Homo sapiens: one gene and its partner. The protein of the gene in region 2 interacts with the protein of the main gene of each other region in a pairwise test. Each region holds a gene or a part of one and is shown on either strand. Other genes may lie near its edges. The genes, in order: LCE2C and FAM221B.

What was found.
Region 1: the proteins of FAM221B (region 2) and LCE2C interact in binary tests that used the Homo sapiens proteins (3 or more experiments, as listed by UniProt).

Annotation. Positions count from the first base shown.
Region 1 is NC_000001.11:152,665,765-152,681,515, reverse strand, and holds LCE2C (late cornified envelope protein 2C), read right to left. Parts: upstream 6,238-15,751; 5' UTR 6,188-6,237; intron 5,522-6,187; 5' UTR 5,501-5,521; coding exon 5,168-5,500; 3' UTR 4,947-5,167; downstream 1-4,946. UniProt on the Homo sapiens protein: Precursors of the cornified envelope of the stratum.
Region 2 is NC_000009.12:35,817,918-35,827,336, forward strand, and holds part of FAM221B (protein FAM221B), read right to left. Parts: intron 9,021-9,419; exon of another isoform or gene 8,875-9,020; intron 8,245-8,874; coding exon 7,647-8,244; coding exon of another isoform or gene 7,617-7,646; intron 7,457-7,616; coding exon 7,313-7,456; intron 3,712-7,312; exon of another isoform or gene 3,525-3,711; coding exon of another isoform or gene 3,521-3,524; intron 2,084-3,520; coding exon 1,973-2,083; intron 1,478-1,972; coding exon 1,280-1,477; intron 1,093-1,279; coding exon 973-1,092; coding exon of another isoform or gene 929-972; exon of another isoform or gene 590-928; coding exon 552-589; coding exon of another isoform or gene 530-551; 3' UTR 1-529.

The DNA of each region.
Region 1 (15,751 bases), on a different chromosome or scaffold from region 2:
CATCTATTTTTTTCTAGGTATTATTTAAGTGTTTTATACACATTATCTCATTTAATCCTCATACTAATCATGTGATGTAGGTGGTATTAATATTCCCACTGTACTAATGAGAAAACAAAGGCTCCTAGAGCTAAACAAATAGCCCAAGTTCACACAGCTGGGAATAAAGTTCAGAAAATTTAACCAAAAAAATTTCAATTATTTTAGTATAATGTCAACAGGTTTCTGACAACAAGTTTACACACAGCATAGATACACTACCATACACACACACACACACACACACACACACACTCACACACACAATGTCAGACCATCTGTCTAGTCCAGATTGTCAATTATTTTGTTTGGTGGGATGAATTTTCCAGATAATTTATAACTATGCTTTCTAAATCCCTCTCCCATACCAATTCCCTGCCAACATTGTCTGTGTACCTCTCTTATATGCAATATCTATGCACTTACTTCTTAATCAAAACCAAGACTGAACCCATCGTTTTTCATGACCCAGACAGCACTATTTATAGGCTATCATGGGAGAAAATTATGTTAATTACATATGATCACTACACACACACACCAACACCCTCACTGCCTATGTCCATTTATATCCAGTATTTCTTTCTAATCATTGGAATTAGAAGAATGTCAGTGTTAGATGAATAGTGCACATTAATTAAATATTCTATTTGCAATCACTGCATATCCATGCCTTAGGATTCCCTGGAGCAAGGAACTTTTCCAAGAATTCTGTGCTGAGCAAATTAGGTAACTATTAAGCAGTTCTTACAAGAGTAAATGAGAGAAGGATATGATCAGATGAATTAAAAGAAAAGAACATCTCTAAAGAGAAAACAATTTGAGGATTTTCTTGGACTGTCTCCCATTAGTAAATTCAATAATCAGAGTTTATTAATTCACTCTTATACACACTCAGCAAGTATTGTTGACTATGTGGCCAACTCTGGGGATACTACATGATATGAAAGGAATATAATATCTGCCCACTGTGACTATATTCTTCAGAAAGGAGGGAGGGACGTGGATGAAGAGGGCATGAGAAATAGAGGCTCATTTTATGCAGTGTGGGAACTAACACAGAAACATTAGTATATCAGGCAAGAAAAGAAGGGAATAGCTGTTTTAAGTCTAGCTTGTTGAGAAGAACTTACCATAAGCTGTTTGAATTTCACACACAGTAAATAGTGCATGCCTTCCCAGTTTAACTCCAGAGAACTTGTTGAGACCACAGAATGTAGTTAAATCACCTAGATTTGGATTCTGAGAACAAGTTACTTGCCTTAAAGCCTTAGAAATGTGCCCGAAATTGTCTGTGCATCTGTCTTTTCATCTATGAAGTGTGGAAAATAGCTGTAATTTCCTAACAGCAATATTGTGTGAATTAATTGTTATTTTGGTTGAGTTACACCTGAAACACTTATAAGAGTGCATATCTTATAACTAGCACAAAAGTTTAGAATTACATAGTTTTACTCTTTCTGTACATAGTTCTGAATTAGGTGTGAAGATGGAGCAATGCAACCAGCGTGGGGGTGGACTAGGATTGAAATCTGACCTAGCAAGGTCAAGGAGCAACCATGAAATGGTAACATGGGGAATTTCTTTCTGAATATTAGTGGGTTTGCCAATTATTTACAAGCAGAAGGAGAATTGTTTAGAAAATGAAAAGTAGCCTTATTCTAGTTTACACATGTGTTCTGTTCAGCTGAATTCACTTCCAGCTGAACTCATGTTAAGATATCCTGCCAACTGAGCCAGCAACAGTAAGAGTCCCTCCAAGAGCCGGCCAATATGCTGGTCCCTCAGGCTCTGGAGTTTTTCTTAGCACTGGGGTTAGTGTTGGTCCTGCTCTGGGAGCAGCTGCTCCTGGAGTTAGCACAGGCAAAACACAGTCAGCAGACCTTGGCTGCAGAGCTGTTGCAGCAGCAGCGACAGAGCCTGGAGAGTCAGTGAGAGAGCAGCGTCGCAGCTCTCGGGCACTGCTGTGGATCTCAGAGGGTCCGAGTTGAGATAACCACACACACAAGCATCCATCCTGGCCCAAAACTCCTTTCTACTCTACCCTATTCCTGGGCTGACCCTCTGGGGACTCAAGAGGGTGACCAGGTAGAATTTTTCATTCGATGTGGAGGTGAAAGTGCTCTCTGGGGATTCTGGCCCAGGTGACAATCTATCCACCTTTTCCTTTTCACAATGTGTTCTGGTTACTGTTGACTCTCCTCACTTGGGTCATATTTCAGATAACCCAGAGTTAATCATCTGTCACCCTCCCACTCTAGATACCTTTGAAAGAGATGCAGCCATAACACCAAGTATGGTTTCTGATTGGACAGCACACTTCTTCTCAGAGCCTCACCCTCCTCCTGCCCTTGAGAGATGATCCAGACCCCTGATCCTTGGCCCACTTCTGGGTGATGGGTGGATTAGAGGTGGGGAGACAGGAGGCAGAAGTAACCTGGAGCCTCCGCCAGGCTTCCATAAGCCAGGTCTTGTGCCTGTCTCCAGGGAGCCCCCCAGAGCACTCCAGACCTCAGCTGCAGGCAGTGAATTCCCCTGCCTAATCAACCTTCCAGGCAGATTTGCCTCAGTGCATACAGCAGAGACCATAAAGGTGGAAACGTGGGCAGGACGTTCCTGAATGTTGCATTAAGAGGTAAGTGAAGTGTACCCAGAGAGTCTGTGTCGCTATTTCCAGAAACCAGCAATCCAGCTGTCTTTACTCAGCAGGTTGAACTATATCAAGAACTACTTGATTGGATGTGTACGCAATGTGCGTGCTCCACTTCATTCTTAACTTACATCTTTAAATTTTGTCCAGAACCACACCATGTCCAGATATCAAAATTTATACTTCTCTATCCCTTCTGTACATACAAGCAGCCAGTGAGATTTAGGAAATTGTTGGGACTTTAGGAAAGCTCAGGTAAGAGGCTCTATTGGGATCAGGACCTTTCACCCACCCTTTCTCTTTCTTCAGACCTGAAGTACAGCGTTGCAGATCAGAACTCCATCAGGCATCTTGAGATCACCAACTGTTTCTCAGGAAATAAGCACTAATAATGAAATGACAAGACAGAGGGGTATCCATCTCTGAATACTCCAGGGAACCACCATACCAGCCATGGACTACTGACCTCTGACTTAATCACATGTGAGTGGAAATAGCCTGCTCTCCTCTTTAAATTGCTGTGATTTTGAGTTCCTGTGATAGTAGCAGAACTTAATTTCTAACACACATGCACACATGCCAAACATAAGATAAGATGCAAGTAAAAACCAATAGTCAGATTGGAAATTATTCTGTGTATGGAAGTTTAGATAAGGAAAGGATTATGTTCACCATGAAAGGAGCACATGGAGCCCCAGATAGCAGGCCCACTGGAGAAGGAAAGGGCCGGTGAGTTGCTCTTACTTAAGGCAGAGGTCCCTGAAAGCATACTCGGGTGTCCACCCCTCCGCAGGCCAGCCTTCACCTGCCCCAGGCAACCTTAGGTCCCCCGCTTGGTGTTCCATTTTATACTGTTTGGGTTTTTTTATTTGTTTTGTTTGCTGACATGTAAACACTAAGGACAAGGAAAAACTTCTTAACCAACTCAGGAAACCCTGAAGCTATGAAAGCAAAGAAAGTCATATTTGAGTATTTAAAAACTACAAATATTTCCATAGCAAAAGTTATTATAAACAGAGTCAATTAATTATGATGTATTAAATATTTTAATAAAGACAGATCAAGGTTAATATCCATGATATATCAAGAGCTCTTGAAAATTGAAAAGAAAATTTAAAATCCTATTACAAATTTTGTAGAAATAGCCAATGTACATATTTATGGAAGCTCAAAATTACTACTGGTCAGGGACTTGAAAATTAGTTAATAATGAGACTGGCAAAATAATAAAGAGCATTGAGTCAAATAAACTGACTCAGTGCAGAGGGTGATTTAAAATGCAGACAGTACAGAATCTCAAACTGGTTAATCAGCTGGGTTTTTGTCTTAGTGGCACTAAGGGTAAGTAAGAAGGTAAACATATTAATAAGAGGCTCCATCTCTGTCAAAATCCGTCTTTGCTGAATCCATTATCTTCATGTCGACACCTGTCAGCCTGAACCTAAGAAGCACTAGCCCTTGTTTCCCCTGCTGTGTCCCTGCTTCCCTCCCCTTCCTCTAGTAATACTTAAGATGCCCCACCCATCCTGGCGCTTCTCCCCCCTCACATTCTGAGGGTGGCTTGGCAAAAAAGATAAGTATTGAAGGAGGAAAGGTCTATTCTTTCATACAGCGTTTTGTATTCTTTGTATTCTTATGTTCCTTATATTCTTTGTATCTTCTAAGCAACACTTCCATGTTTTTTCACTTAATATCTCCATCACTCATCACTCCCCTGCCCAGCACGTGAGCCAAGTGGCAGGACAGCATCCTGGGACTCAGATCTAACACTGTGAGGAACTGAAGCCAGGTGTCCAAGGCAGCAAGTCAAAAGGCTGATCTTAACCAGACTCATGAAAAGAAGCTGAGTGACCATGGGCTGTACTTTACAGGAGGAAGGGTCTCAACATCTGTTTCAAGCATTTTATCCAACTATTGATTCTAAGGGCAGGAAAGTTTTGCTTCATAGGGATGTGTTCTTCTCCCTAGAGAAGAACAAGTCTGCAGAGCTTCCCAACCTTCCCAACGTCTGGATTACACAGAAAATTAGAACATGTGTCTGGCTTAGTGGAGAGAAAGGCAAAGCTACCATAGCCAGAGGTGACCCTCTTGGAGCTCCATTCACTCAGCATCTGGGGGAATCAGTTCCTCAGAGCAGCTTTTCATGTATCACCTACTCATGTCCTGTCCTAGCCTCATGAAGAAAATTACTCTGAGGCCCTGACCTTTGGAGGACATTTGAAATCTCAGAAGAGAAGAGAATGACCAAGACATTTAGTGAGTCAGAGATCAGAGCTTTATTATAACATGAGGTAAAGGAGGAAAAGAAGACTTGCAATTGGGGTGTTACATCAAGCACGAAGTTCTTCCAGGAAAGCCCCATGAGTCTTTGTGGTCTCTGCCAACCAATGAATGGAATGAGAGGAAGTGGAAAGAGTATCCATCAGGCCGTAGCAGGTTCTTGGCCATTCAGTCCCAAGAGCTCTTCTGTAGCCCAGGTCAGCAGCAGCCCCCAGAGCTGTGGCAGCAGCCAGAGCCCCCAGAAGGTTCACTCTCACAGCAGTCGGGGCTCTGGTGCCGGCGCCGGTGGAAGAGACGGGGCCTGTGGTGGCTCAGGGAGCAGCCACCAGCCCCAGAGCTGCAGCAGCCCCCAGAGCTGGGACCACAGCAGCTCCCAGAGCTGGGACCACAGCAAGAAGAGACTGCAGGGAAACATGGAGCTGGGCACTGTGGTGGGCATTTGGGGGGACACTTAGGTGGACATTTTGGGGTACACTTGGGAGGACACTTGGGAGGGGGCTGGCACTGCTGCTGGTTTTGCTGGCAAGACATGCTGGCAGGAGTTTAGTCAACCTGAAAGATAATAATGAAACTCTTTAAATATTTCAAACCAAGGATCATATTATACCTCTTCTAAAATCAATGCATGTGTAGAAGAAGAATGATATTTAGATAATACAATCACATCAGTAACCTGAAAGAAACAACTTGAATCTTTCCTCTAGATAAAAGTACGTAGATAAAAAATCAACAGAATGAGCTTCTTACTCTTCCTTTCAGGGGAAACTGCGATTGCTCTATCCTCACAAGCCCGAATAGAGTATTCACAGCTCCCTGAAGTACCTATTCCTTTAATACAAGCCCTAAGGACAAGCTGGGTGTTGCAGGACATACCAAGGGGTCCTCTGGAAAATATTTTGCAATGAAACCTCCAGATAAAAGAGCCTGGCTTGAAGTATTTGCCAGTTTCCATGGTGTAAATATGCCCAACACAGCAGTTTTGAAGTTACCAACATGAAGTCACTGAACACAGAATTGGAAAAGATGTGCACAGTTAGCTTTCCCCACCTATATGAGCTCCGGTAGGCCTCAGAGCCTCAACAGATTCGAGGCAGGCTGAGTCCCATTCCTGCTCAGTATGGCAGAACACAAGCACACAACTCTTTCTCCAGCCTACCTCCATCCTCCCCATCCCTCTGCCTTGCTCATACCCCTCTGGTATCCCAGGTTGCCACTCACCCTGGTCACACGCAGGAGCACAGACACGTCCCTGGGGAGTCAGAGCAGATGAGATGCTGAAGCTGGATGTGTCTTTTATAGGGCCCAGGCTTGGCTCTGGAAAGAGCAGGAGGTGGCTCTTGCACAACCAGGCACACGCTGGGTCATTCCTGACATTCTCCTGCCTCTTAGTCCCTGCAATCCAAAGAGGCCTCAGGAGCTTCCAGGACTCCTCTCTGGGGCTGCAGTCTAGAGAGGCTGTAGCCAGTCAGAGCCTCCACCAGGTGGGAACCCTAAAGAGTTAACTTAGGGTACCCAAGGGACCCACACCTGGACAAGATTCTGTTCCCTGCATTTTTTTAATGCATGTCCTCTGAGGAAACATCAGTTCTGAGCCACAGCTTTCCCTGACCTTGTGGAAATGTTCCATTATGACTCCCTCCACCCTGAGCAGTTTCTCTTCCATGTCCTGCTGTGGATCCAGCCATCCCAGAGGGCTTCTACAGCCTTGGCTTTTTCTAGGCATCCCTCCCTTGCCTAGGCTCTCAGCCCTTCCTCCTGGCCTCTGTGTTTCTGCTTTTCCTCCGACTCACCATGGCAAGCAGATTCGGTGGATTAAATCTGAGTTGATTCTGTCACCTAAAGCAAGGAGAATGATTGAGAATAAACAATTCCCTCTAAAATCTAAACATTTCCTTCAGTCAGAGGACTTGTATTGAATGTGCTACTGGAATCAGAAAACTTGCATATGATAACTGGGTAATCTCTGAAAGTTGCTGTAACAATTATCAATAATTGCTAGAGTATTACTATGATACTCACTGTGAGTATCAGTTCTCACATATAATGCCCATTATAAACCTATCAGTGAGATATACCTATCTCACTGAGCTGTTTGTAATATAAAGTGAGAAGCAAGAAAGAGCTAAGTATGACATTTTGTGCCTGATAGACCCTTAATAAATATATGTTTAATAGAAAAACTAATGCCATGTATTGGATACTTGCCCCGGTCTTATGTGTCATTAATTGCCCATATAGAGCCCTTACCCTCAGAGAGCTTAACTCCACCAGACACTTAGATTATTTGAAACCTGTCTTGGGAAGTAGACATCATTTCTTGGGGCTCCTATGCAGAGGGAACTCCTTTCCTACCAGGAAGTAGAGGGTCAGCCAGGAATCTAGTTATTCAGAGTTCTGATTCAGGGTTGCACTAGACAGAGTTACCCAGTCATTTATTCATTTAGTTTAAACAGATACATTGAGTGTGAACCTTGAAAACATTACACTACGTGAAAGAAGCCAGTCACAAAAGACTGCATATTGTATGATGTTATTTATATGAAATGTGTAGAGTAGGCAAATCTCTGGAAATAGAAAGGGGATGAGGCTTTAGCCAGTTACAGCCTCTCCCAGGCTGGACCCCTGAAGAGCTGACTCAGGGCATCCGAGGAACAAGAGCCTGGATGAGATTCTGTTCCCTGTATCTCCTTTTATGTTTATGCCTGTCCTCTGAGAAATATCAGTGGCTTCCAGGTGCTTTAGCGGGCTGGGAGATATTGAGAAGTTACTGCCAATGGATACAGGTTTTCTTTGTGAAGTAATGAAAATGTTCTAAAATTATGGTGGTGATTGTCCAACTCTGTGAATATACTGAAAACCATTGAATTTACACTTTAAACAAATGAACTACAAATATGTTAATTACATCTCAATAAAGGTGTTAAAAATTAGAATTGAAAAAAATAGATATTCACACCTCTGATTAAAACAGAAACAGACTGTGCCTTCACATTGCCTAATGCCTACTTAGTGGGGGAGGGGAGGATGCGGAGAAAGCATAGTTTCCCATTGTCAGCTTCTAACTGAGGGATTCTGTTCTCCTAGTTATGCAATCCTATTATCAGATCTGATTCCTGCTCTCAGGAAGCTTTTACCTGAAGGATAAAGTAAGTCAACAGTGTGGTCAGAGCAGTGAATTCAAAAGGCATTCTTTGAAAGCCTACAACGTTCTTGAATCATGTATGTCCAAATATAGGGATATAGAGGTGAATAATAAGTAGCCCATGACCTCAAGGACTGTAGAATTTTTGTAGCCTTTTTGAAGATGACTGCAGACAAACATAGGTCCAAAGAAGATGACGTTTGGGGCCTGAACCTCCTGAGTCACTATTTCCCAGTGTGATTAGAACATGTTAGTTCATTCCACTGTCTTCATGGTGATATCACCCTCAGCTTCCTCATACTCTTTGACAAAGATATTTGTAACAATGTGGTAAGTGAGGAAGTAGGGGAGGCAAGTCTGTGTCTGTGTGTGTGTGTATGTGGGTGTGTGCTCTGTATGTGTGTATGTTGTATTTATACAAAAATTCAGGTAAAATGAACATGCACATACATGAGCGTCTGTATTGAGTGGTTGAATAAGCGATGGAAGAATTAATGGGACCCGATCCCCTGGGAAACCAGAACTGGGAGATAAGCAGCTGTTTAACATGTCCCCTTTGTCCCTTTATATCTCAGAAAATGTTGATAATTAGTTCACAAGTCAGTGAAGAAACACCTGCCTGCAAGTATTCTTGCTTCTGTCTCCACAGCCCTCACATCATCATAGGTGATCCCTCTGAGCCAGAAGACCCCATGTCACATTGTGCATGTTCCCTCAGGGACCAGCCAAACACTTAATTGTCTCATGAGTGTTGGCAGAATCAATGCATGATTGCAGGACCACATGAACAAGTACACAGGTGACATGAAAAGAATGGCCTGGGATTGATTCCAGACATTTCATCTGAAGTTCACCTCATCTGGAAAGTCAGTCTCCTGAAAGCTGATATTTCCAAGTAGCTCCTTGAATTGTCTCCCTGGGAACTTAAACTCCGTATATTCCAGAAAATTATCCCCCACCAAATGCTGGAACTTTATTTTAGCCACAGTACAAGAAAAAGCCTTACCATGTCCCTTGATGTATCTCATCTTATTTAGTAGATTCACTAATCCAAATTTTCCGTTTACTATATCTTTGTAGTCCTTTTCATCTTCTTGTCAACACTGTCTGGCACTGTCTGATTTTGGCCCAGTTTCCACTCCTGAAAGGGTATGTGTGGAGATAAGGGTTTATTGAATTGTAATTTCCAAAAAGTTAAAAGCATGACTCATATAAATATATAGCAGGCATATTATAAAGATTTGTTTCACTTGTTAATAAGAGAATCAGCATGATGGTAATGCTGGTTCAAAGAATAGGAGAGACCAAAAAAATTCTGGAACAAGATTGCAAATTTAGATACAAAACTGGTTAAAGTTTTCAAAGGCAATGAAACCATTAGGTTAAATTTTCTAGAGCACACAAAATAATTTTCAACTTACAAATCTTCTATAATTTAAATCTAGCTTTACAGTGTCTGGGCCTTGATCAATACCAAATACATTAAGTAAAATCATGCCACCATTTTTTTTAAAAACCTAGAGAGTCATATACACCTTAGGCAAGGTTGTTAGTTACTAGGAAGAAGTAAAAATTTAAAAGACTAATCAGAAATCACTTTTTTGCTTAATTTTAAGTTTTGGATAAGTTTAACCCCCAATTTCCTAACAAGAGATGGTTTCTCAGAAACTGGGGCTTCAAAACCCAGGTCCAGAATGGGTTCTTGCTGAAGTCATATTGGCTGATGGACATCAGAGGGGCATGAATTCCAGGCAGAGAGCTGCTGGAGAATTCACGTGTCGTGGTCCTGCTAGAGCTGGGACTCACTTCAGATCTTGGTATTAGCATAGCTTATAAGAGATGTCCCAACACTGCCCCGCATCTGTTTTGCCTCATCTGGGACATGCCATTTTCCTTGCCTGGTTACCAGGGTGAGTTTGCCAGGGGGAGCCATCAAACTGGCTCTCAGCAGAACCATATGGGAGTCTTAAGAGCAACACCGGGAGTATGGAATATGAAAGGAGAAGACGGCCCAGTGATAGGGAGGAGCACAGCAGAGGGGTGTCCTGGGCAAAGCAAGAATTGGCCTGTCTAGTTTGTACATACATGTTTATATGACCTGAAGAGGATGGATTTTATACTTAATTCATCAATTCCATGATACACTCTTCTTACATTTTTTAACAGCCCTTAAATCAGTGTATACCATATGAATGGTGGCATGTAATAGTTGAATTTGCAAAATTTTTATTTCCTTGTGGTGCATGAAATAAGGGTGCCCCTTACAACTGATAGCCTCTTTACGCTCATGAAATATAGTAGGTAGTAAATGGGTCTGTAGATATGAAATGAAATGATGAGAGACAGAAATTGACATTGATTTAGCATTAGTTCTGTTTTCAGAAATGTCACTTCTAACACTTTTAACTTGGGGTTATATGGTTCTTCATAGGTACTATTAGATACTAATGTATTTTATAAACTGTCTGCCAGCACACCATGAATAGGTTTAAAAGGGCAAAATTATGCCCATATTGGCTCTAATTTATCTGACTTATTGCTCGATTCATTTTCAAACTCAGATACCTTGCCAAAACACCACCAGTAATGCCAATGCCTTTAAAGAGCCCTTCACAGTGCCACTCCAGTGCACAGCCCATGTTCACCTCCAGTTCTTCTTGTGTGACTGACCCCGCATGGGAAGCAGCTACAGCTTCATCAGCTCCCAGAGTTCCAGCTACCGTGCAGTGGTCAGCAGCCTTGTCTGTGCTGTACTGACTACACCTCTGTGGAACCAAAGTGCAAAGGCCAAGGGCCTCCCCAGCCACATGCTGCACTCCCTCCCTCCAGTCCTCCTAACATCACAGCCTTGTTGAGACTCATGGGGTTACCAGGTAGAAGGTTCTGTTTTCCCAATATTCTCCAAAGGTCTGTCCAGAAATTTGCCTTTATCCTAAGTGAAAATAAAACCATCATGGCATGTTCTTAGTGTGTCCTGGTCACTGCTGACCCTCTTCTGTCAACAGAAGACCTCTTCTGTCTGTTGGATCATATCTCTAATGACCTCCATGTATCCTCTCAGTCTCTGTGATGGTTAATTTTGCCTAGGCTATCCTATGATATCCAGTTGTTGATCAAACACCAGTCCAGATGTTGCTTTGTATGCATGTAATCAGTAGACTGACTAGGTTGATTATCTTTCCTAACGTGAGCCTCATCCTATCAGCTGAAGCCTTTAATAGCAGAGACTGAGGTTTCCAAAGAAGAAGAAATTATCATCAACACTGCCATATAGAAACTCTGCCTGTTTCCAGACTACTGCCTTGCAGAATTTAGACTCAAGGCTGCAACATCAACTGTTACCTGAATTTCCAGCCTGCTGGCCTGCATAATCATCACAATTATCATGCGATGATTGTGGGGTCTGGCAAGATTTCAGACTTGCCAGCCCCCACAGTCATCACATTAGCCAATCTCCTAATATAAACTTATCCCTCCATCTCTTCTATTTCTCTGGAAATCTCTAACTAAAACAGTTCTCCTTACCTCCATGTCTTCCCCTGAGGTATACATTGAGTGGAACTGTACTTTTGGGTCAACTGCCTCCATATGTATATATACATATATACACACACATCTGTACAAATGATAAAAATAACAAAATGTAATATAATAACTGATGCTTATTGACCACCTATTTTGTTCTAGGTCCTATTTAATTGTTTTATATACATTATCTCATTTAATCCTCATGCCAATTCTGTGATGTAGGTAGTATTAATATCCCCACTATACTAATGAGAAAACAAAGACTCCTAGGACTAAACAAATAGCCCAACTTCACACAGCTGGGAATAAAGTTCAGAAAATTTAACCAAAAAAGATTTTGAGAACTTTAGTATAAGGTCAGCAGGTTTCTGAGAACAAATTTACACACAGCTTAGATACAGTACCATACACACACACACACACACACACACACACACACACACACAATGTCAGACCAACTGTTTGGTCCAGATAGCCAATTATTTTGTTTGGTGGGATGAATTTTCCAGATTATTTATAACTATGCTTTCTAAATCTCTCTCTCATACCAAGTTCCTGACAAACTCATTGTCCATGTAACCTCTCTTTTATGCAATATCTGTGCACTTACTTCCCAATCAAAACAAAGACAGAACCTATAGTTTTTCATGACCCAGACAGCACTATTTATAGGTTATCACGGGATAAAACTATGTTAATTACATATGATCCCTTCACACACATACACCAGTGCCCACACTGCCTATGCCCATTTGTATCCAGTATTTATATCATTTTAATCACTAGAATTAGAAAAATTTTAGTGTTATATGAATAGGTTACATTAATCAAATATTATAATTGCAATCACTGTCTATCCATGCCTTGGGATTCCCTGGAGCAAGGAACTATTTCCAAAGACTCAGTACTGAGCAAATTAGGTAAACATTAGACAGCCTTATGAGAGTAAATGAGAGAAGGATATGATCAGGTGAATTAAAAGAACAGAACATCACTAAAGAGAAAAAAAAACTGAGGATTTTTTGGGACTGTCTTCCATTAGTAAGTTCAATATTCAGAGTTCAAAAATCACTCTCACACACACTCAGCATGTATTGTTGACTATGTAGCAAACTCTGGAGTACAACATGATATAAAAGAAATATAATCTCTGCCCACTGTGACTATATTCTTCAGAAAGGACAGAGGGACATGGGTGAAGAGAAAGGTATGAGAAATCGAGATTTCTTTTGTGCAGTATGGGAACTAGCCCAGAAACATTAGTATACCAGGCAGGAAAATTAGGGGATAGCTGCTTTAAGTCTAGCTTGTTGAGAAGATCTTACCATAAGCTGTTTCAATTTCACACATGGTAAATAATGCAGGCCTTTCCAGTTTAACTCCAGAGAACTGGTTCAGATCACAGACTAAGTAGCTATATCACCTAGAGTTATATTCTGAGTACCAGGTACTTGCCTTAGAACCCTAGAAATGTTCTCAAAGTTGTCTGTACCTCTGTTTTCTCATCTATGAAGTGTGGAAAATAACTGTAATTACCTAATAGCAACATTGTGTGAATTAATTGATCCTTTGGTTGAGTTACACATAAAACACTTATAAGAGTACGTATCTTATAACAAGCACAAAAGTTTAGAATTACCTAATTCTACAATTACTGTACAGAGTTCTGAATTAGGTGTGCAGCTGCAGCAATGCAACCAGCATGGGGGTTGACTAGGATTGAAATCTGACCTAGCAAGACCAAAGAGCAACCATGAAATGGTAACACGGGGAATGTCTTTCTAAATATTAATGGCTTTGCCAATTAATTAGAAGCAGAGGGATAATTGTTTAGAAAAAGCAAAGGTATCCTTATTCTAGGTTTACACATGTGGTCTACTGCTGAATTCACTCTCAGCTTAACTCATGTTGAGATATCCTGAAAACTGAGCCAGCAGCAGGCTTCCTCCCAAGAGCCTGGCAATATGCTCATCCCTCAGTCTCAAGTTTTTCTTAGCACTGGAGATACTGTTCTTCCTACTCTGGGAGCAGCTGCTCCTGGAGTTAGCATGGGCACCACAGAGCCAGCTGACTTTAACTGCAGAGCTGCTGCAGCAGCAGCGACAGAGCCTGGGGAGTCTGTGAGAGAGCAGCGCCGCAGCTCTCGGGCACTGCTATGAAATCTCAGAGGGTCCGAGTTGAGATAACCACACACTCAAGAATCCATCCTGGCCCAAAACTCCTTTTCTACTCTTCCCTCTTCCTGGGATGACCCTTTGGGGACACAAGAGAGTGACCAGGTAGAATTTTCACTCGATGTGGAGGTGAAAGTGCTCTGTGGGGATTCTGGCCCAGGTGACAATACATCTACATTTTCCTTTTCATAATATGTTCTGGTTACTGTTGACTATCCTCACTTGGGTCATATTTCAGATAACCCAACTCAGAGTTAATCATCTGTCACCCTCCAACTCTAGATACCTTTGAAAGAGATGAAGCCATAACACCAAATATGTTTTCTTCTTGCACACTTCTCAGAGTCTCACCCTCTTCCTGCCCTTGAGAGATGATCCAGACCCCTGGTTCTTGGCCCACAGCTGGGTGATGGATGGATTAGAGATGGGGAGACAGGCAGAAGTAACTCTTAGCCTACCCCAGGCATCCATAAGCCAGGTCTTGTGCCTGTCTGCAGGGAGCTCCCCACAGCACTCCAGACCTCAGCCTCACCAGGGAATTCCCCTGCCTAATCAACCTTCCATGCAGGCTTGCCTCAGTGCATACAGCAGAGCCCATGGAGGTGGAACTGTGGGCAGGATGTTCCTGAATGTTTGTGTTAAGAGGTAATTGAAGTGCACTCAGAGAGTCTGTGTCACTATTTCGAGATAACCAGCAATCCAGCTGTCTTTACTCAGCAGGTCAAACTGTATAGAAAATTACTTAATTGGATAGTGCCCAACATACATGCCCCCTTCATTCTTAACTTATATCTTTAAATTTTGACCAGAACCAAATCATGTTCAGATATCAAAATTTACACTTCTCCATCCCCCTTGTATGTACAAGCAGCCAGTGAGATTCAGGAAATTGTTGGGACTTTAGGAAAGCTCAGGTAAGAGGCTTTACTGGGGTCAGGGCCTTTTACCCACCCTTTCTCCTTCTTCCTACCTGAAGCACAGCCTTGCAGATCAGAACTCTATCAGGCACCTCGAGATCACCAACTACCTCCCAGGAAACAACTGCTAACAATGAATTGACAAGACATAGGGGTATCCATCTTTGAAGACTCCAGGGAACCACCGTACCAGCCATGGACCACTGACCTCTGACTTCATCATATGTGAGTGGAAATAGTCTGCTTTCCTTTTTAAATTGCTGTAATTTTGAGTTCCTCTGATAGCATCCGAACATAATTTTCTAACACACCTGCACACATGCCAAACACAAAGTAAGATGCAGCTAAAAACAAATGTTAGAATGGATAAAGAAAATATGGCACATATGCACCATGGAATACTATGCAGCCATAAAAAAGGATGAGTTCATGTCCTTTGGGGGGACATGGATGAATCTGGAAACCATTATTCTCAGCAAACTAACACAGGAACAGAAAACCAAACACTGCATGTTCACAATCATAAGTGTGAGTTGAAAAATGAGAACACATGGACACATGGAGGGGAACATCACACACCAGGGCCTGTCAGTGGGTAGGGGGCTAGGGGAGGGATAGCATTAGCAGAGATACCTAATGTAGTTGACAGGTTGATGGGTGCAGCAAACCACCATGGCACGTGTATACCTATGTAACAAACCTGCACGTTCTGCACATGTATCCCAGAACTTAAAGCATAATTTAAAACAAAAAAAGTTAGATGGGAAATTATTCTGTGTATGGAGGGTTAGATAGAGAAAGGAAGTTGCTCACTATGAAAGGAGCACATGGAGGCCCAGATAGCAGGCCCACTGGGGAAGGGAATGGCCGGTGGGTTGCTCTTACTTAAGGCAGAGGTCCCTGAAAGCACACTTGGGTGTCCACCTCTCTGTAGGCCAGCCTTCAACTGCCCCGGGCAACCTTAGGTCCCATGCTTGGCACTCCATTTTGTACTGTTTGGTTTTTTCATTTGTTTTGCTGC
Region 2 (9,419 bases):
CATCTCTTCTCTCTCTTCTGGGTCCTTCAAGGTCCTTTAGTCTACTGGCCTCTTCCCCTTTTCCTTCCTACAAAAGTACTTCCTTGACTCCACAACTCCCTCTGGATATTGTCTGACTTTACTTTTGTACTTTTCATCCAAGCTTCTTTAAGAGACTCCTTGAAACTCACTGCTGTTTGACTCCTGCCTCCACTGCACCAGTGTGAAACTGCACTCTCCGATGTTCCCAAAGATCTTCTAATTGCAAAACCCAATGGACACTTTTCAGTCTTTATCTTATTGGTGCCCCAACTGCATCTAACATCACTTCCCACTCTATCCTTCTTGAAACTTCCTCCCTTCTTGACTTCCTTGAAGCCACTTTCCTTCAACAGGCAGCTTGAATGTGAGTGTGATGGAGGCAGATGGCCAGATCCAGGCTTTCTCCTGTGTCTAATAGGTGTCAACTCTAAGTTATTAGGCAGTCTCTCCCTGGGCTGGGATCTACCTGCCCCATATAGAGCCAAGTCAGGTTCCAATGACTCCTCTTTTATTGCTGATCTGGGCCAGACTCACAAAGGCCTGTGCCAGTTGCTGACAGTGTCTGTCCCTGGAGGAAGAAAGAGCAGAGGTGAAAGGGTCAGGTATGGGGGTCAGAAGGGAGGCCAGGCTGGAGACCGTGTGAACCAGGGAGCCCCGGGGGACTAGGGTGGGAGCTGGGAAGGCCAGAGGGCCCCTGTATCTGCAGGGCCTAGAAGTCAGAGTTGCTGAGGATGGCTTCTCGGAGCACAGCCATCTCTGCAAAAGGTACATAGTCTGCTCCTGGGGGTGAAAACCAGTGCAGATGTGGGATGCAGGTAGGTGGGTGGTGGGGAGGTGGGCTGAGGGAGCGCGCTAGTCCTGGAAGGGATGGTTGAGGATGGGAGTGCCTTCCTGCCTGGCCTTCTGACTACAGACCCTGGAATGGCCCCCTGTCCCAGGTTTCTGCCTCACCGCGAGGCCTTCCTCCTCGTTGCCGGGTCTTCTGGGTGTCAAAGAAAGTCTCGTGTTCCTCCCAGCGCCGGTCACAGGCCGCACAGAGGAAATTAGACTCAAAACAGCCGCAGCAACAGCCTGGGGCAAAAGTGCAGCCAAGAAGAGTTTAGGAAATGGTGGTATCCCCAGGAGCTGACCACATTCTCATCTCTTCCTCAGTGACCGCATGCCCAAGGCTCTCATACCTGCTCTCCATCATTATCCCCAGATTGCATCCTATCCCCACCTACCCTGCTCCCAATACACCTCTTGCCCTAGAAGTTACCATGATGCCTGCAGGGATGGGGCCCAGTGGCTGCATGTTCTTCGTGGCTGTGTTTGCAGCGACATTGGGCCCTCCAGGCCTTGGGGTCAAAGGTGGCCCGTCTCTTGAGCCAGAACTCACCCACCTCCTCTGGGCGTGATGGGATAAAGCAGAACATGAAGCAGCGGCACTGGCTTACCTTGCAGGGCACCGATATGTCTGTGGGATTGGGGATGGATGGTAGGGTTAATCTGATAGGACCTTGCCTTCTCATGCCAACCCCATCCTCCATCCCCACCACCCCCTATGCACGCAGACATGCTTTTTTTTTTTTTGAGATGGAGTTTTGCTCTGTCGCCCAGGCTGGAGTGCAGTGGCATGATCTCAGTTCACTGCAACTTCCGCCTCCTGGCTTCAAGTGACTCTCCTGCCTCAGCCTCCTGAGTAGCTGGGACTACAGGTGCGTGCCACCATGCCTGGCTAAATTTTTTGTATTTATTTATTTATTTTTTAGTAGAGACGGTGTTTCACTGTGTTAGCCAGGATGGTCTCGATCTCCTGACCTTTGATCCACCCGCCTCCGCCTCCCAAAGTGCTGGGATTACAGGGGTGAGCCACCGTGCCCAGCCACATGCTCTCTCTCATACTTCCCAAGACATGACAGAGTACAGTTATTCCTCCACACTCGAGAGGGGCTGGTCAGTTCTCCCCTACCTGAGATGATCCGGTGCTCTCTCAACAAGTGTCCACAAAAGCATCTGGACTCATCCCCAATCCGGAAACAGTCCCATAGGTAATGGGGGCAGCGCCAGCCAATGTAGAGACCTAGGTATGCAGGATTAAAAGTGAGAAGTAAAAAAATTCTAAGCTCCCCCGAAGTGTTCTTACCTATCCCTTGATGGAGGTGAGGGGGTGGGGGGAACTTACCTCTCCCCACCCCCAGGTATCTTTATCTCCACCTGGAAGTCCTCACCTCTACCCCTTAGATTTTCTTTTTCCTCAGGGTTTTCTCATTACCCCAGAAGTGTCTTCAGTTCTCTTCCTACCCAGGATCTACTCCATCTTTGTCAGCCTGCCAGAGATGACTCAAGAGAGTGGTTTCTGAGCAGGAAGATTATAGATGAAATTTTGTTTGAGGATGAACATGAATCTCACTGAGTTCTCTGTGACCACAGGGATTCTCATCTCCTCTCCTCATCCCACTAAAGCCCAACTTTGCTTTGTTTTCTTGAAGTGTCTAAGGTGAGGGAAAGGGAAGATGATTGGCCAGATGTACAGACAATGGGATTGGCTCCTAAGGAGCATATTTATTGAAGGTCCTGAAGAGGAGAAGGAGGTTGGATAGCTCTGGTGCTGGAAGGTAGGAGGAGGGCTTCCTCTCACGTCTCCACGTTGGTACCTTAATACCTCCCTCTGTGTTCCTGGTGCTATTGTACCAATGCTCTCTGTGTACCTAAGAAGGGCTGCCAAAGGTTCTTCAAGGGTCAGGAGAAAGGGGTAGGTAGCAGTCATGAGTGGTGAAGACCAAAAATTATATATTTTGAGGCTAAGCAAGGAGGCGTGGAAAGGAAAGTGAGGCTAAGAAGTGTCCCTGAGAGTAGGCACCAGCAAGAGGTCACAACCCTCGAGAGCTGGTGTTCAGCAGTGAGGTCTGAATCCCTGGCTTCGTGACTAGTCTTGAGGTGAGGGTGGTGCTGTGCAACTGAGGGAGGATAACCAGATGGCACCTCCAATTCAGATTTTCTCATTCTCCATGAGAACTGAGAGTACCCCAACTTCTAGCCAAGAATCCTGTATGAGGCCCCATGCAGTGGGACTGCCAGGTGTAGGATTCTTAGTCCCAATTAAAGGCTCAACTGAAATGTCACCTCCACCAAAAAGGTGTCCCTGACTTCCCCTGTCTGTCTGGGCCCCTCCTATTGCCATCCATAGCTCCTTGTGCTACTCCTGTTGCAGTACACTGCATTATAATAGATCATTCCCTTGTATTCCTATTAGTCCATGAGTTCTTCAAGGGAGCTGTCTTTTCACCCGTATCTCTCATCCTAGCACAAGGCCTGGCACAAAATGGTTGCTGAGAGAACGTAGATTGCCTGATTAAACAATTGAGCTCATTCCTTCAAGAGGAAGAGAGAGCCAGTATTCAGGCATAACCCTGAGGTTCCATAACATGAATAAGGAGAGTGGCATCATCTGGTCTTTGACTGTGGTCAGGGCCACAATTCACAATTCCGTGCCTCAGATTAAGTTTTCTTGTCTTACCCATAGTCTGTCAGGATCTAAAGCCTGTCTAGATGTGGCTTTTGGCTTTGCTTCTTCTGTCTTGATGCTGATTGCCTGTAGTGCCAGTGCCCCCTTACACCAGGGAGGCTTTGTTGAGAGAGCAAGGTATAGGCAGTCACAATGCAGGTGGGCGGGAGCCAGGATTCCACTAGAGGAGTTCCGAATTCTGTCTGGAGTAGCAGGATACATTAAAAAAGCAGGAGGTGAGGCCCAAAGATCAAGGCCTGCTCGGAGGGCCGGGGGGCAGTCAAGTCCAAGCACTAGTGTAGGAATCAGTGCCCAGCATTCAGATGAAGAAGACTGGAGTTTGAACAGGGAGACTGGCAACTATACTTCAGATTCTGTTACAAGTGTTAGTGCTCTTAAAGTGGGACAATTGGAAGGTGGCTGTGGATTCCAGTGGGACCCTCTACTCTCTGTCCTGATTCCAAACTCCCTTCCTGTTGTGGGTGGACAAGGCCTGGCGGGGGAGGAGACATTATTTGGGATGCCATTTTGATTCTGTCTAACACAGTCCAGTTCCACAATCACATAATCACATTTGCATGATGACATCTCTTTATGCATAGTATGTCTCCATAAAACACATGGCTGTCTTTACAGGAACAATGTCTCCAGCCTAGCCCTCTCTCCTGAGCTTCAGACCCATATAGCCAGCTGTCTACTAGACTCTTGGGCCAGCATGTTTCATAAGCACTTCAAATGTCTTATGCCCAATTATTCCCTCCAAACCTGGCTCTCATCCTTTGTCCTCTGTTCATCCAACACATGCCTACCAAGCATCTACCCTTTTCTAGGCATTCAGTTAATGGCACCATTATCCTACCACTTACTTATGCCAAAAACTGGTGGCACTCCAGGCATTTCCCTCTCTCTTATCCTATACATCCACTGTTCCAATGGTCAGTTTCACTTTGTTAGCTTTTCTTTTCTTTTCCCTACTTTTCTTGTTTCTTTTCTTTCTTTTTTGACAGAGTCTCGCTCTGTTGCCTAGGCTGGAGTGCAGTGGTGCAACCTCGGCTCACTGCAACCTCCACCTCCTGGGTTCAAGCAATTCTCCTGCCTCAGCCTCCCAAGTAGCTGGGATTACAGGTGTCCGCCACCACACCCGGCTAATTTTTTGTATTTTTAATAGAGACGGGGTTTCACCATGTTGTCCAGGCTGGTCTCGAGCTCCTAGCCTCAGGTGATCCACCCCTTGGCCTCCCAAAGTGCTGGGATTACAGGTGGTAGCCGCTGCGCTCGGCCTGTTAGCATTTCTTGAACCTGTCCACTTCTCTCCACCTAAGCCCATCTACTTCTTTCCTGGTTATGACCAGTGCCTCACAATGTATTCACTTGCCTTTCCATACCTCCTCTCTTAGCCTCACAACTCCAGTCTTGTCTTTCTCCAGTCTACCCTATTGCCAGAGTGATCTTGCAGAAACAGAAATTCGTTCATGTTATTGTCCTACTTAAAACCTTCTAGTGACTCTCAGTTGCCCTCAGGATATAATTCTAGCTTTTAACTTGGCACAGAAATTCCTGCACAATTCTGCCCTTCTAGAGCAGAGTGGGCTCTTCTCCCCACCACTCTATGCATCAGGCATAGTGCATTGCTATAGATTCCTGCTGTGCCTTGCCCTGTCATGTCTCATCTTACAGCACTCTTTACTTGGCCACCTCTTCTTACTCATCTTACAGATATCAGCTGAGAAGTCATTCCTTCCAAGGCTTACTATTCCTCAAGCACTCCAGATAAGATGCCCCTTTTTTTTCTGCTCATGCAGCAGTCTAGGATAACCTTGATTATAGCAATTATTAGAGTGAATTATAATTGTCCTTGTACTTATTGGTATCTCTCATTAGAGTGCCAAGTATTTTGTCTTTGAACCCCCATCAGCATTACCACTTCCATAGCTAGCTCAATGCCTGGCACATAGTTGGTGCTCAATAAATGTTTGTCGAATGAATAAAAACAAAGGTTACACTTGATATTTCTGTACACATCACATATACTGTTATGGACTACCCAGGACTCAACATCCCCACTATTAGGAGGGGACCTCAAATATAATTGTTCGGGGTTGAATGACATGAATTTCTTTATAAAACTTCCTGTTTAAACAGGAAGATGAAGAAGTTCAATTTGAAGAAGAAAAAGAAATACAGTGGGCTTGAGGAGTAGGGAGTAGACAGGAGGTTCTGAGTAGGGGAATAAGAGGACTGAACACATCCTGCATTTTTTTTTTTGAGACATTCTGTCACCCAGGCTGGAATACACTGGCACAATCACGGCTCACTGCAGCCTTGACCTCCTGGGCTCAAGTAATCTGCCCACCTCAGCCTACTAAGTAGCTGGGGCCACAGGTGTGCACCACTATGTCTGGATTATTTTATTTTATTTTTGTAGAGATAGGGTCTCACTGTCTTGTCCTCACTGTCTAACTCCTGGGCAATTAAGTGATCCTCCTGCCTCAGCCTCCCAAAGTTTTGGGATTACAGATGTGAGCCACCTTGCCAGCCAGAATTTGCAAGAAAATAAGAGTAACCGAATATGTTAACATAAGCAAACAAAGTTGGTGGTGGGGCGGGAGGGCAAGGGTGGGGAGGTGGAGGGTCCCTGCATGGGAAAGGGGAAAGTAAATTTCATGGAGGAGGGATAAGCATTTAGAATTACCTGCTTGTCTTTATGTTTTAGGCCTGTCATCGTAGCTCTATTCCCATCATAAAGGGAAAGGAAGTATGAAGGACCAAAATAAATGTCATAACATCTATTGAATTCAGTCTAGAAAGACCAGAATCCTTATAGCAGGTCAGGGTGGCCCTCTTACTGAAGGTAATCCCTATAGACATGAATTTCCATAACACAGGTAGGCATGCTCATGCATAGGATGGCATGTTTTTGCAAGTTCATCTGTACGCAGCATGCCACTAACAGGACTGTCAAGAGTACTAATCACAGGCTGAGGCTTGGAAACAGCAGGGCCAGAGGACACAGGTCTCCCCTTTGGTAACAGAACTCAAAGCTTTTGGGTACCCAGCATGGGCCTGGCATGCAGGGGTGACAGCCTTTTAATGGAGTTCCACCAAAGGGACTAAGGTCTTTGTCATGTCAGAACAGCAAGTCTCCTGGGGACTGTCCAGGGTCCTGGGCCATCTCTGCTTTAGGGTCTGTAGGCTCTCTGGGCCCTATATCTGGGGTGGGCCATGACCCTTCTGTTTTTTTTTGTTTTTTGTTTTTTGGTTTTTTTTTTTTTTTGAGACGGAGTCTCGCTCTGTTGCCCAGGCTGGAGTGCAGTGGCGCAATCTCGGCTCACTGCAAGCTCCACCTCCCGGGTTCACGCCATTCTCCTGCCTCAGCCTCCCGAGTAGCTGGGACTACAGGCACCTGCCACCACGCCCGGCTAATTTTTTGTATTTTCAGTAGAGACGGGGTTTCATCGTGTTACCCAGGACAGTCTCGATCTCCTGACCTCGTGATCCGCCCATCTCGGCCTCCCAAAGTGCTGGGATTACAGGCGTGAGCCACCGCGCCCAGCCGACCCTTCTGTGTTTAATAATTTTAGTTCAGCTACCTGTCTCTACCTGGGCTTTATATGAATCTCCCCACTTTTTGTCTGCATCCACCCTTGTATTCCTTGGCCCACTTGCCTGCTCCTTTTCCAGGCAGGTGGTATAGCCATTTCCAAAAGGGGAAGCTATCTGCTGAATGTTCAGGTTCCCAGATCTTTTGGATTAGAGGATGCCCATGGGCCTGTCACAGGCCTCTGAAAGGCCACATGGGCTCACCTGTCTGGATGGCATTCAGGGCTGCATCCTTCTCCCACTGGAAAAGATTGTTCACTTGAGCACCAAACTCCTCTCTATGCATTGCCTTAGCCACTTCCACCAGCTCTGTCTGCCTAGCAGGGAACACTGGGCGGGCTGTGTTACCTAGGATGGGAGAGGATGAGTAACCAGGGGGAAGTGAGAAGGCCCTAAAACTAAGAGAAGGGGCCATGTCCAAGAGTAACCCAGTCTCCTCCTCCTGGGGCAAGTCAAGGACAGTGAATAGTAGTGAGAACAGGACAGGGGAGAGGACAGGTACAATTACAGCTAACTCCTTTCTTCTTCTTCTTCTTGCCTAGTTGGTGTCCAGGTTGGGCTGTGTGAGCAGTGCTGTCACTGGCATCTACTCCCTTTTCAACCTCTCCTGCTTCTTCCTCCTGCTTTTCGGTTGTGTCCACTTGGACCTGGGATGAAGGGCCTGAAAGACAGTGTTCTGGAAGGCTCTCAGATTCAGAGAGATGGGTAGACCTCCTTGTCCATGGGACCTCATTGGAAGAAGACTCAGAGGAGAGGTCTTCCTTCAGAGTATCAGAAGAAGACAGACAGACATAGTCTCGTGATTGGGGAGGAAGAGTAAGGTGTTTCTCTGGCACCACTGAGATGGGACTATCCAATGAAGCCTCATAGGTAGGGGTCTCTGAAGGAGTCTCAGAGATGGAAGGCTCCTGATGGGTTTCAGGGGAATGGGCCTCTAAGGGGATCTGGGAAGGGGATGGCACCAAAGGGGATTCAGAGGTATGGGGCTCTAACGGGGTCTCAGAGGTGGAAGGCTTCAAGAAGCTTTCAGAGATATGGTTCTCCTGTAAGTCCTCAGCAGAGGGGTCCTTTGAAGGGGGGTGCTTCTCTGCATCCATGGTGATATGAGGCTCTTCTATGATCTCATGTGCTTCCATCTAGTGGTAGAACAGGGTACAGGCTTCATTAGGTTGGAAATAGAGGGCCGGCAAGTCAGGGCAGAGCCCAGGGTTCGCAGTGCATTATGGAATTTGGATAAGGATATCAGTGCAGCTGAGATATAAGAGGGAAACAACATGAACTCTGGGTCCTAGAGTGTGATGCCAAAAGGTTCACCCATGTGTCCAGACCTCATATGGCATGCTGCTGTGGCTTGTTAGGGAGCTGGAACTTAAAGATTGAAAGACTGAAGTAGTTCGAATCCCATCAGTAGATGGTAGCAGAGAACCATGTCCCAGGAGGGAGTCTGAACAACACCACTTGGGCAGTCCAAGAGCAGGGTCCTTGGCATATCTTAAAACCCTGGAGGTCAGACCATGGAGTTCTAGAGACTGGCAATACCAAGCCAAAGTTGGGGTTGGCTCCTGAGAGTGCAGGGGAATGCTGTCACATAAGGCAAGACACTGCACGCAGCCTGGTTTTGTCTAGGCACCACACACATCCTCCTCCCTTAATGATGTCATTCATGTTCAAAGCTTTAACTACTTCCAGTTGTGTACCAATGACTCCTAAATTCACATTTCTAGCTCAGACCTTTTTCAACCTCTGTACTTCACACTCATACCCACCTGCCTGCTGGCCTTCTCTTCTCTTCTCTTTTTGTGATGGAGTCTCGCTCTGTTGCCCAGACTGGAGTGCAGTGGCGCAATCTCGGTTCACTGCAACCTCCGCCTCCCGGGTTCAAGTGATTCTCCTGCCTCAGCCTCCCAAGTAGCTGGAATTACAGGCGTGTGCCACCATGCCCGGCTAAGTTTTATATTTTTAGTAGAGACGGGGTTTCACCATGTTGGTCAGGCTGGTCTTGAACTCCTGACCTCAGGTGATCTGCCCTGCTTGGCCTCCCAAAGTGCTGAGATTACAGGAGTGAGCCACCGTGCTTGGCCCCTGCTGGTCATTTCTAACTGAGTGTTTCCACAGACAGCAAAACTGAACTTTGGGAATTATCCTAGTCTTTTCCTTTTCCCTTAGACTCCATCTTCAAATAGGCACCAATAACTCTATTTCCTATCTTCTAAATATTCCCCAAATGCATTCTCTCCTCTCCCTTCCAATTTTATTCAAGTTCTCATCATCTTCAGCCTTTGTGTAATAACTTTGCCCCTCTACTTCCATC